Regions from separate parts of the Homo sapiens genome. Here region 2 is linked to region 1. A link means that fine-mapping ties the variant in region 1 to the plasma level of a protein whose gene starts in the linked region. Region 1 holds a variant in brackets. A gene starts in the other region. All regions are shown on their reverse strands. Region 1 overlaps CLC (Charcot-Leyden crystal galectin). Region 2 holds the start of PRG3 (proteoglycan 3, pro eosinophil major basic protein 2).

What was found. PIP is the posterior inclusion probability: the model's chance that the variant is causal. Protein levels are from antibody-based Olink assays in UK Biobank. Linkage for the fine-mapping came from a reference panel and not from the study's own genotypes, which makes the PIPs less certain.
Region 2: PRG3 starts here. The variant in region 1 is fine-mapped to the plasma level of the PRG3 protein (UK Biobank, PIP above 0.99).

What each region holds. Positions count from the first base shown.
Region 1 is chr19:39,731,166-39,736,542 of GRCh38, reverse strand. It overlaps CLC (Charcot-Leyden crystal galectin), which reads left to right. Exons shown (of 4, transcript NM_001828.6): 2 at 1,470-1,546; 3 at 2,050-2,260; 4 at 5,038-5,288. The coding sequence ends at 5,163. Among named protein-coding and RNA genes, the nearest start is that of CLC, 4.2 kb to the left of the region's middle. The variant C/G (reference allele first, on the strand shown) is at 2,152.
Region 2 is chr11:57,378,660-57,384,036 of GRCh38, reverse strand. It overlaps PRG3 (proteoglycan 3, pro eosinophil major basic protein 2), which reads left to right and starts at 2,887. Exons shown (of 6, transcript NM_006093.4): 1 at 2,887-2,923; 2 at 3,256-3,389; 3 at 4,230-4,543; 4 at 5,225-5,356. The coding sequence starts at 3,329. RefSeq lists an enhancer at 3,499-4,698.

The DNA.
Region 1 (5,377 bases):
TTGGCCTCCCAAAGTGCTGAGATTACAGGCGTGAGCCACCACGCCCAGCCTGCAGTGAGTTTTGATGGTGCCACTGCATTCCAGCCTAGGTGACAGTGTGACCCTGTTTCAAAAAAGAAAAATACCATCCATTTATAGATTCTAGCCAATAACTTCCCTGACCCACAATCTTCATTTGTGCAAGTACTGCGGTTGTGCTCTCAGCAATGTGTGCCCCTTCTGGGAAGGACGTCCATTGCCCATGATGATTGTGATGTATGTGCCTCCCACGCACAGGGGTTTCCTGTTCTTTCCTGTTCGTTTCCCTCTCTCTTTCAACAAGTGTTGTTTCTTTCTTTCTTTTTTTTTTTGGTGGTTAAAATGATAATAAAAAATAAAACTCACAATCTCAAGTTAGAAAAGATGCAGAGTACCTGAAACAGTCAAACGATGCTTGGAGGGATGTAAAATGATACAGCTACATTGGAAAATCGTTTGGTATTCCCATAAAATTAAACATAAAATCACCAAACAAACAGAAACACTTTACTCACCAGATTTTAGCCAAGTAAACACTTTAGTTTATGGAAAATCCTATACAGAAATGTTTATAGTGTCATTATTTGTAGCTGTTCTCAAATTGAAACTAACCCAAAGTTGTTGTTTCTTACTGGAGTGAATCTCTCTACTGTTACATCCTCACATCTTGTTTTCACAGTTTCAGAGTTGAAGATGATCGCAGGTCAGTGTTCCACAAGGACCCTCCTTGTTCAGATAGAGGACCCCCAACAGGCCCTATACGTGCCAGGGTTTAGGCTAAAGGGTTTACATCTATTAACTACTGTATAACTGAAAACATGATACAAAGTAGGTATTTCGGATTATCATCTTTGTATTGGGAAAACTGAGGCAGGGAGAGTTTAAGCAATAGATCTAAGGTCCCCTTGCTGGTTGGGCAAAGTGGCTCACCCCTGTAATCTAGGAGTTTGGGAGGCTGAGACAAGAGGATCCCTTGAGCCTAGATGCTCCAGACCAGCCTGGGCAACATCGTGAAACCCCAACTCTCCAAATACGTATAAAATTAGCTGGGTGTGGACCAATAGTCTCAGCTACTCAAGAAACTGAATTGAGAGGATGGCTTGAGCCTGGGAGGTTGAGGTTGAAGTGGGCTGTGATTGTGCCAGTTCACTACAGCCTGGGTGATTCAATTAGACCCTGTCTAAAAAAAAGGTTCAAAACATGTTAACATCTCACTGCTAGTAGTCAGCACAATAAAGGATCTAATTGAGGTAGCTCAGTTTCTGAAGCTCTGCTCTTAACCATGGGCCCCATTGTTTTGAAAAATACGGGGTCCTGACTGAGGTAGGGTGGGAGCAGGGAGGCCTGAGTCTACTGCTTGATCTCTAACTGGCTGCACCATGGGAATCTGTTACAGGAGGGGAGGCCACACCTGGCCCTGCCTCTCTCACCCACTCTCAATCCCCTGGCAGGTGCCATACACAGAGGCTGCCTCTTTGTCTACTGGTTCTACTGTGACAATCAAAGGGCGACCACTTGCCTGTTTCTTGTGAGTACTCCATGGTGCAAAGATGGGAGGTGGAGAAGAGGAAGAATATTTTCTAAGGGGGTGACCTCATGTGTGAATCATGTGGAAAGTCTAGTTGGCAGGATGGAAGTGCCATGAATGTGCAGGTCCTGGAGACCCTCCAGCACCAGGAACAAAACCTACAGCAGCTGCACTGGGGGCTAGTCATGGGTCTAGGAGTAAAGGACACTCAAGGCTTGGGGCTGTGACACTTTATCTATTAAAAGGCATAGAATATTCAGAAAATGGGCAATTCATATGACCAAGTCAGTGACTATGGCTCAGTTTCCATCTGTGGATGAGGGCTGGAGCATCTCTTTCCACCCATGGAGAACACAAGGAGCTGAAGCAGCCCCACAATGACAAGGCCTAGAATACCAACAAGTCTTTGCTCGACCACGGAAGGGGCAAAGAGACTTGTGTGTGTGTCTTGTGTGTGCCCCACAAGAAAGGGACCTGCTCAACACTGTGTGCTCTGCCCTCAGGAATGAACCATATCTGCAGGTGGATTTCCACACTGAGATGAAGGAGGAATCAGACATTGTCTTCCATTTCCAAGTGTGCTTTGGTCGTCGTGTGGTCATGAA[C/G]AGCCGTGAGTATGGGGCCTGGAAGCAGCAGGTGGAATCCAAGAATATGCCCTTTCAGGATGGCCAAGAATTTGAACTGAGCATCTCAGTGCTGCCAGATAAGTACCAGGTGAGCACCCCAGGAGCTCCCCGCACCCGGCTTCCATGGGATCTCAGAGCAGGAGGCAGCTCTTCATGCCCTAACTCCAGATAACTCCCTCTGTCCCCGGCTTTTCATCACCCACAACTCCCCTTATCCCAGGCTTTTCATCACCCATAACTCCCCCTGTCCCAGGCTTTTTATCACACACACAGGGGTTCCCTTTACTTTTATCATTTCCCTCTCTCATTCAACAGGTGTTGTTGCTTGCTCTGCCATCACCTCTCCTTGCACTGCCATCCTCAGCTCTTTTCCCATACCTGACCAGGGTCAATGTCGGTTCACTTGCCATTTTCCCCAAATGGAGAATATCCTCTATCTTCCCCTTATGATGTTATTTAAATTTTCATGTAGCTAAATGGATAAGATATACACATGAATAAAATTGTTTTAGTCAGTCCAATATGAAGACTTCTCACTCCTCAATCCCAATCCTCAGAACAATATTACTAGCTTCTCTACTCTTCTTCCATAGTCTATCCTTATAGAAGCATATACATACACCCATATATACACTTTTATTTGTTTTTAAACAAATGCTGGTATCAATGTCCCTACACATTACACTTTAGGAATGACAGTTGAGTTGTACTCAAAGAATATATATTGGAGAAATAATCTATCCATGGTGCTGCCTCATTTTTTTAAGGATTACATAATATTCCCCTAGAAGGATTTCCTCAACTTGCTGTACTTGACCCTTTACAAGAGCACTGAGTTGGTTTCCAATGTTTTGCTCTCACAAATGTTACTGTATTAAGCTTTCTAATCAACCCTTTTTTCATTGCCAACTTTTCCCTATTTATATTGGAACATGATTATAAAGAAAAGGAATAACTGGTTCAAAGTTGTATGGATTTTAAATTTGAGAATGAAACCTAAAATATGACTCCCTGTGTAGCCTCAGTAATAAAGAATGTGATCAAAGTTTCTGACATTTCAAATGGGTAGGCCAAAACATTCACATTTTATTCAGATTAAAGTCAGAGGTGTTTTTCTATGTTTATACGCTGTTAAAGATAATATCCTCATAGTGGTTTTGATTTGCATTTCTCTGATGGCCAGTGATGATGAGCATTTTTTCATGTGTTTTTTGGCTGCATAAATGTCTTCTTTTGAGAAGTGTCTGTTCATGTCGTTCGCCCACTTTTTGATGGGGTTGTTTGTTTTTTTCTTGTACATTTGTTTGAGTTCATTGTAGATTCTGGATATTAGCCCTTTGTCAGATGAGTAGGTTGCGAAAATTTTCTCCCATTTTGTAGGTTGCCTGTTCACTCTGATGGTAGTTTCTTTTGCTGTGCAGAAGCTCTTTAGTTTAATTAGATCCCATTTGTCAATTTTGTCTTTTGTTGCCATTGCTTTTGGTGTTTTGGACATGAAGTCCTTGCCCAGGCCTATGTCCTGAATGGTAATGCCTAGGTTTTCTTCTAGGGTTTTTATGGTTTTAGGTCTAACGTTTACCGTCTCACACCAGTTAGAATGGCAATCATTAAAAAGTCAGGAAACAACAGGTGCTGGAGAGGATGTGGAGAAACAGGAACACTTTTACACTGTTGGTGGGACTGTAAACTAGTTCAACCATTGTGGAAGTCAGTGTGGCGATTCCTCAGGGATCTAGAACTAGAAATACCATTTGACCCAGCCATCCCATTACTGGGTATATACCCAAACGACTATAAATCATGCTGCTATAAAGACACATGCACACGTATGTTTATTGCGGCATTATTCACAGTAGCAAAGACTTGGAACCAACCCAAATGTCCAACAATGATAGACTGGATTAAGAAAATGTGGCACATATACACCATGGAATACTATGCAGCCATAAAAAATGATGAGTTCACGTCCTTTGTAGGGACATGGATGAAATTGGAAATCATCATTCTCAGTAAACTATCGCAAGAACAAAAAAACCAAACACCGCATATTCTCACTCATAGGTGGGAATTGAACAATGAGATCACATGGACACAGGAAGGGGAATATCACACTCTGGGGACTGTTGTGGGGTGGGGGGAGGGGGGAGGGATAGCATTGGGAGATATACCTAATGCTAGATGACGAGTTAGTGGGTGCAGAGCACCAGCATGGCACATGTATACATATGTAACTAACCTGCACAATGTGCACATGTACCCTAAAACTTAAAGTATAATAAAAAAAATAAATAATAAATAAATAATTTAATAACCATAAAAAAATAAATAAAGATAATATCCTATGTTTTGTAACATTAATCCAGCCCCACCTCTCTAAGAACACTTGAGTTACATTCCTTGCCGCCACTAGCTCAAATATGAGCAATTCCAGAGAGAAACTGGGTCATCAGCAGCAAATAGCAGTCATAATTTATGTAACTGAAATGTGTGCATTCAGTGGACATTGTTGAGCACTTACCCTGTGGCTGGCCCTGTGCAAGATGCAGGGATTCAAGTTTATGAAACACAGTCCCTGGCCTTGGAGATCTTCCAGGATAGAGGGGAGGCTGAGCAAATATGGCCCATGTGACAGAGAGTGACAGAGCCTCACTGGAGAAATGAGAGGAAACATTGAAAATACAGTGAGCAACTGTCTCAGATAGTTACAACAGGTAGTCTGTAAAAAAGAAGTGTGTCTACTGGGTTCAGATATATAATGAGGCATTTTCTGGTTGGATGTTTCAGGTACTATGACACCATAGAGAGCAGGCTGAAAGCTTGTTTGGTGAAATACTGTCTTTCTGATGTATTTTTTTCCTTCTGTAGGTAATGGTCAATGGCCAATCCTCTTACACCTTTGACCATAGAATCAAGCCTGAGGCTGTGAAGATGGTGCAAGTGTGGAGAGATATCTCCCTGACCAAATTTAATGTCAGCTATTTAAAGAGATAACCAGACTTCATGTTGCCAAGGAATCCCTGTCTCTACGTGAACTTGGGATTCCAAAGCCAGCTAACAGCATGATCTTTTCTCACTTCAATCCTTACTCCTGCTCATTAAAACTTAATCAAACTTCACAGAATTTGGTTCTTGCTTTCATGGGGAGAAAAAGTGGTCATCATCAAGAGGGCTTGGGGGATTTTATAGATGGTGTGAACAAGTCAAG
Region 2 (5,377 bases), not on the chromosome of region 1:
GACCAGCCTGGCCAATATAGTGAAACCCCGTCTCTACAAAAATAAAAAAATTATCTGGGCATGATTGCAGGTGCCTCTAATCCCAGCTACTCGGGAGGCTGAGGCCGGAGAATTGCTTGAACCTGGGAGGCGGAGGTTGTAGTGAGCCGAGATCATGCCATTGCACTCCAGCCTAGGTGACGGAGCAAGATTCTGTCTCAAAAAAAAAAAAAAAAAAAAAGAAAAAAGAAAAGAAAAAGAAACAATGAATGAGTGTGAGGCTCATGGTAGTATTGGTTCCTGAGAGTAGCCAACCTTATTGGTCATCCCAGCCACGAAGTGAAATGGTACCCCTGGCTTGGGCCAATGAATGAGGAAGAATAATGGCAAATGGGGGTCTATGCCTCCACCCTCCACCACTAGGGAGGTCTCAAGCTTGAAATCCAGTGACCAGGTTTTTAGGTCCTGGACCTGGCCAGTCCTCCTACAGTCAAGTAGATAAGTGGAGGGTTTGGTCCGTTGGGCTACGGAGATAGTGATCAAGGCCGTTACTCTGCAATCAGACTCAGAAATGGCCTCTCAGTTACTTCTCCATTTGTGGGTCTTTTGGAAGAGCAGAGAAGAGGAAGGAATTTAGGTCTTCTCACCCTCTGGGCTGCCTGTCCCTGCTCCCTGAGCCATGGAGGGCTGGGGTGGAATATGGGGAATAAATCTGTACTTTTTTTTTTTTTTTTTTTTGAGACAGAGTCTCGCTCCGTCGCCCAGGCTGGAGTGCCGTGGCGTGATCTCTGCTCACAGCAGCATCTGCCTCCCGGGTTCAAGTTATTCTTCCACCTCAGTCTCCTGAGTAGCTGGGATTACAGGTGCCCACCACCACGCCCGGCTAATTTTTGTATTTTTAGTAGAGACAGGGTTTCACTGTGTTGGGCAGGCTGGTCTCAAATACCTGACCTCAGGTGATCCACCCGCACATGCCTCCCAAAGTGCTGGAATTACAGGCATGAGCCACCGTGCCCGGTCCTACCAATCTGCACATTTTAATTGACAAGGGTCACCCTCCACTCATGTGCCAGGCATAGTTCTGAGAAGCATCCCACAAGGATGCCTCTGAGTTCACCCTGACAAGTCCACTAGCTCTTGGCAGAGACATCTGGCAAATTCAAGGCTTGAGACATGCTGGCCTCTCTTTAAAGTGCAGCAAATTTTGTCTAGAGCTTGGTCAGTTAAAATTTTGATGTTTTGTTTTGCATTAATTTCAATTTTTAAGAAATGTTGCATTAAAATGTTATTTATCTTGAATAGTAAATTTCTTAGTGTCCCCTTAATTTCTTAGTGTGTCTGAGTTGAGAGCCTCCCCTGCCTGATTCTAGTCCAGACCCTGGGGTGACAGAAGACTGGTGGGAGATGGGAGGTGAGGAGGGGAGTGTTGGTTGGAGAGGATGATCTACAGAGTGCTGGAGAGACTCTGTATGGAGCTTTTCATGCTGCCTGTTTGCCAGCCCTGAAGCTATGCCTTGAGGTTGGGCAAGGTGGCATATCCTAGATCAGAGATCCTCAACTGGGGCCATTTTTCTCCCCAGAGGACATTTGGAAACATGTGGAGACATTTTTGATCATCTGCGGGGGTGGGGAGAGGGGCTACTGACATCTGGTGAGTAGAGACCAGAGGGACCATTAAACTTTCTACAACGCCCAGGACAGCCCCTCCACAATAAAGAGTTATTTGACCTCACATATTAATAGCACAAAGTTGAGGAACCTTGATCTAGATCCACAGCACAGAAGAAAGGATGTAGATTTTTCACACATTAAAGATGAGAAAGCTTGTGCCTGTAATCCCTGTGACTCAGGAGGCTGTGGCAGGAGGATTACTTGAGCCCAGGAATTCAGGGTTACAGTGAACTATCATCGCAGCACTGCACTCCAGCCTGGGTGACAGAGCAAGATTTTGTCTCTTAAAAAAAAAAAAGATGAGGACAGGCACAGTGGCTCATGCCTGTAATCCCAGCATTTTGGGAGGCCGAAGTGGGTGGATCACGAGGTCAGGAGTTCAAGACCAGCCTGGCCAGCATAGTGAAACCCCATCTCTACTAAAAATACAAAAAATTAGCCAGCTACTTGGGAGGCTGAGGCAGGAGAAGCGCTTGAACCCGGGAGGTGGAGCTTGCAGTGAGCCAAAATCTTGCCATTGCACTCCAGCCTGGGCGACAGAGCAAGACTCCGTCTCAAAAAGAAAAAAAAAAAAGATGAGAAAGAGGAAGGGAGAGAAAAAAGAGAGAGAGGAAAGAAAGAGAGAAGGTTTTGGAGTCAAAAAGACTTAGAAATTCCAGTTCTTCCACTTCCCATGGAACCTTGGCAAGTTGCCTTCTCTCTTTCTCTGAATCTCACATTTTGCCTCTGTGAAGTAGGGGTGGTACCTGGTGGAGATGATGCGGAGATGAGGGTGAGGGGTGTGTTGCACACTATGCCCCTAGGATGGGTGAGAGCTTGGGAGCACTGAACCTCCCTTTCCCCTCTTGTTTCTTCCCCCCATTGTCTCCCACCAGCTCCCTGGGATCTCCACTTCACTCTCTGGGATTCCACCAGCAGGAGGCTACTCCTGGAGTTAAGGCGTGTTGTTCAGACTGGGGCATTTTAGGGGGCATAAATAATAATTATGCCTGGACAATGGACATAACATCTAGGGCCTTCTGAAGCAAACCAGGGTGTGGGGTACCCAAACAAGGCAGTAGGCCCCAGGAGGCAGGTCCCTGCAGTCCCAGCAGAGAGCAGGGCACAGGGTTGAGAAGACTGAGCAAACTTCATTATCAGCTCCTTTGTCCCCCACTCTGTCCTGGAGCAATCATTCTGGCCTCTTCCCACTTCCCCAAAAACCCAGTATAAAGGCTGCTTCTGGCCCCTGAAGCCAGAGGCACTGAGAGTGGAGGTCTCAGACTCTTGGAAGGTGAGTTCTTTTCTGGCTGCCCAGGCAGGACCAGTGTAGGCCCTGGGAAGAAGCAGCACCTCATAGGGCAAACACGTAGGAGGCCTGTCCTTAGGAACATCATAGCTAAGCAGACCTGTCCCCGCAGGGGCAGGAGTCTGGGCTAAGGGTGATACTGGAGAGCAGCAACGGAGACTGGAAGACAAATGAAATTTGGTACCTGAGTTATCCCTCCCACCATTCCTTTTCTAGACTCTCCAGCTCAGGGTCTGTTCATGGCAAGAGGAGAAAGCAATCTTGTTTGCTCTTTAATCAAACAATTAAACAAATATTCCCTCTATACTATGTGCCAGGGGCTATACTAGACACACAAAGACAGCCCCAAGAAGGACGGTGGAGTAGTGTCCTCGCTAAAAGACAGTAGATATGCAATGCCTCTTGCTCCTGCCCTTTCTCCTGCTGGGAACAGTTTCTGCTCTTCATCTGGGTAAGTCTCTCCCTTCCCTCCTCATGCGTCTTTCCCTTTTTTCCTTTTTCCTACACTCCCCTCCCCCCGCTTTTATTTGCACTCATGAGGCCAGGACCACAGCCTTCCCTCTTTAGCTGATACAGCTCATCTCCGGTAAGATATCACTTGGACTCAGAACTGTAACCTGGAACTTTCTCTTTTTTGTTTGATTTTTTTTTGTTGTTGTTGTTTTTGTTTTTTTTTTTGTTTGTTTTTTGTTTTGTTTTGAGACGGAGTCTCGCTCTGTTGCCCAGGCTGGAGTGCAGTGGCGCGATCTCGGCTCACCACAAACTCCGCCTCCCGGGTTCAAGCAATTCTTCTGCCTCAGCCTCCTGAGTAGCTGGGACTACAGGCACATGCCACCACGCCTGGCTAATCTTTGTATTTTTAGTAGAGATGGGGTTTCACCATATTTGCCAGGCTGGTCTCAAACTCCTAACCTTGTGATTCGCCCGCCCCGGCCTCCCAAAGTGCTGGGATTACAGGCGTGAGCCACCGCACCCGGCAAACTGTAACCTGAACTTTCAGAAGGAAAAACCACCCACCTGTTAAGATGAAGGGCTGGTGACTGCCCCAGGCTTCTCACACGTGCTTTCTCCCACCTTCAAAACACACACTCGTGGTGTCGGCCAGAAGTCAGGTTCTTGTCCATTTGTGGGTGTGACCCGAGAGATCTCTCCTTACCTAACACCAAGGAAATCCTCCAGTCTTGTCTTCAGGTGGAATTCCTAGGAAAGCTCGAGCGACGTTGCTGGAGCTGTCCACGGTGCTGGAACTAGGAAGCTCTTGACCTGATGGCAGGTTACCTCTTCTTCCCAGAGAATGATGCCCCCCATCTGGAGAGCCTAGAGACACAGGCAGACCTAGGCCAGGATCTGGATAGTTCAAAGGAGCAGGAGAGAGACTTGGCTCTGACGGAGGAGGTGATTCAGGCAGAGGGAGAGGAGGTCAAGGCTTCTGCCTGTCAAGACAACTTTGAGGATGAGGAAGCCATGGAGTCGGACCCAGCTGCCTTAGACAAGGACTTCCAGTGCCCCAGGGAAGAAGACATTGTTGAAGTGCAGGGAAGTCCAAGGTGCAAGATCTGCCGCTACCTATTGGTGCGGACTCCTAAAACTTTTGCAGAAGCTCAGGTAAGTAGTAGGGAGGCTACTGCGGAGGACCTGGGGGAAAAGAGAGTACATTCAGTCTTCTGTTCCCTATTCATTTAGGCTAGTGGTTCTCAAAGCCTCGCATGCATCAGAATCACCTGGAGTTGTTGTTAAAACACAGCTTTCTGGGCCTCACCTGCACGACTTCTGATTTAGGAGGGCTGAGGTGAAGCCTGAGAATTTGCATTTACAACAAATCCCCAGGTGATGATGATATTGTTGGTCTGGGGAGAACCACCGATTTAAACAAAAGGCTTTGGTGTTAGAAACGCCTGTGTTAAATTCTGGTTCTGCCTTTTATTAGCTGTGTTACCTGGGCAAGTTGCTTTGCCTTTCAAAGCTTTAGCACCTTCATTTGTAAAACGAAGATATATAGCACCAACTTCTTAGAGTTGTGGTGAGCATTAAATGAGATAATACATGAAAAGTGTTTGGAATAGTCACTGGGCTGTAATAAACTCTCAATAAGCGGTGGTTATAATTATTATGAGTATTATCATTTCCTGTAGGATTGTCCTGACAGCTAATTAAGAAGCAAAAGATAGGATTAAGGGAGGCAAGTAGGTTTATTTTTAACCTGAAAAGGGATGCCGGGCTCTTGCCTGGAGACTCAGAAACTTGAAATAAATGAGAGGGAATTCTCTACTTTGTTTCCGTCTGCAGAATGTCTGCAGCAGATGCTACGGAGGCAACCTTGTCTCTATCCATGACTTCAACTTCAACTATCGCATTCAGTGCTGCACTAGCACAGTCAACCAAGCCCAGGTCTGGATTGGAGGCAACCTCAGGGGCTGGGTAAGTCAGGGGCCAAATCTT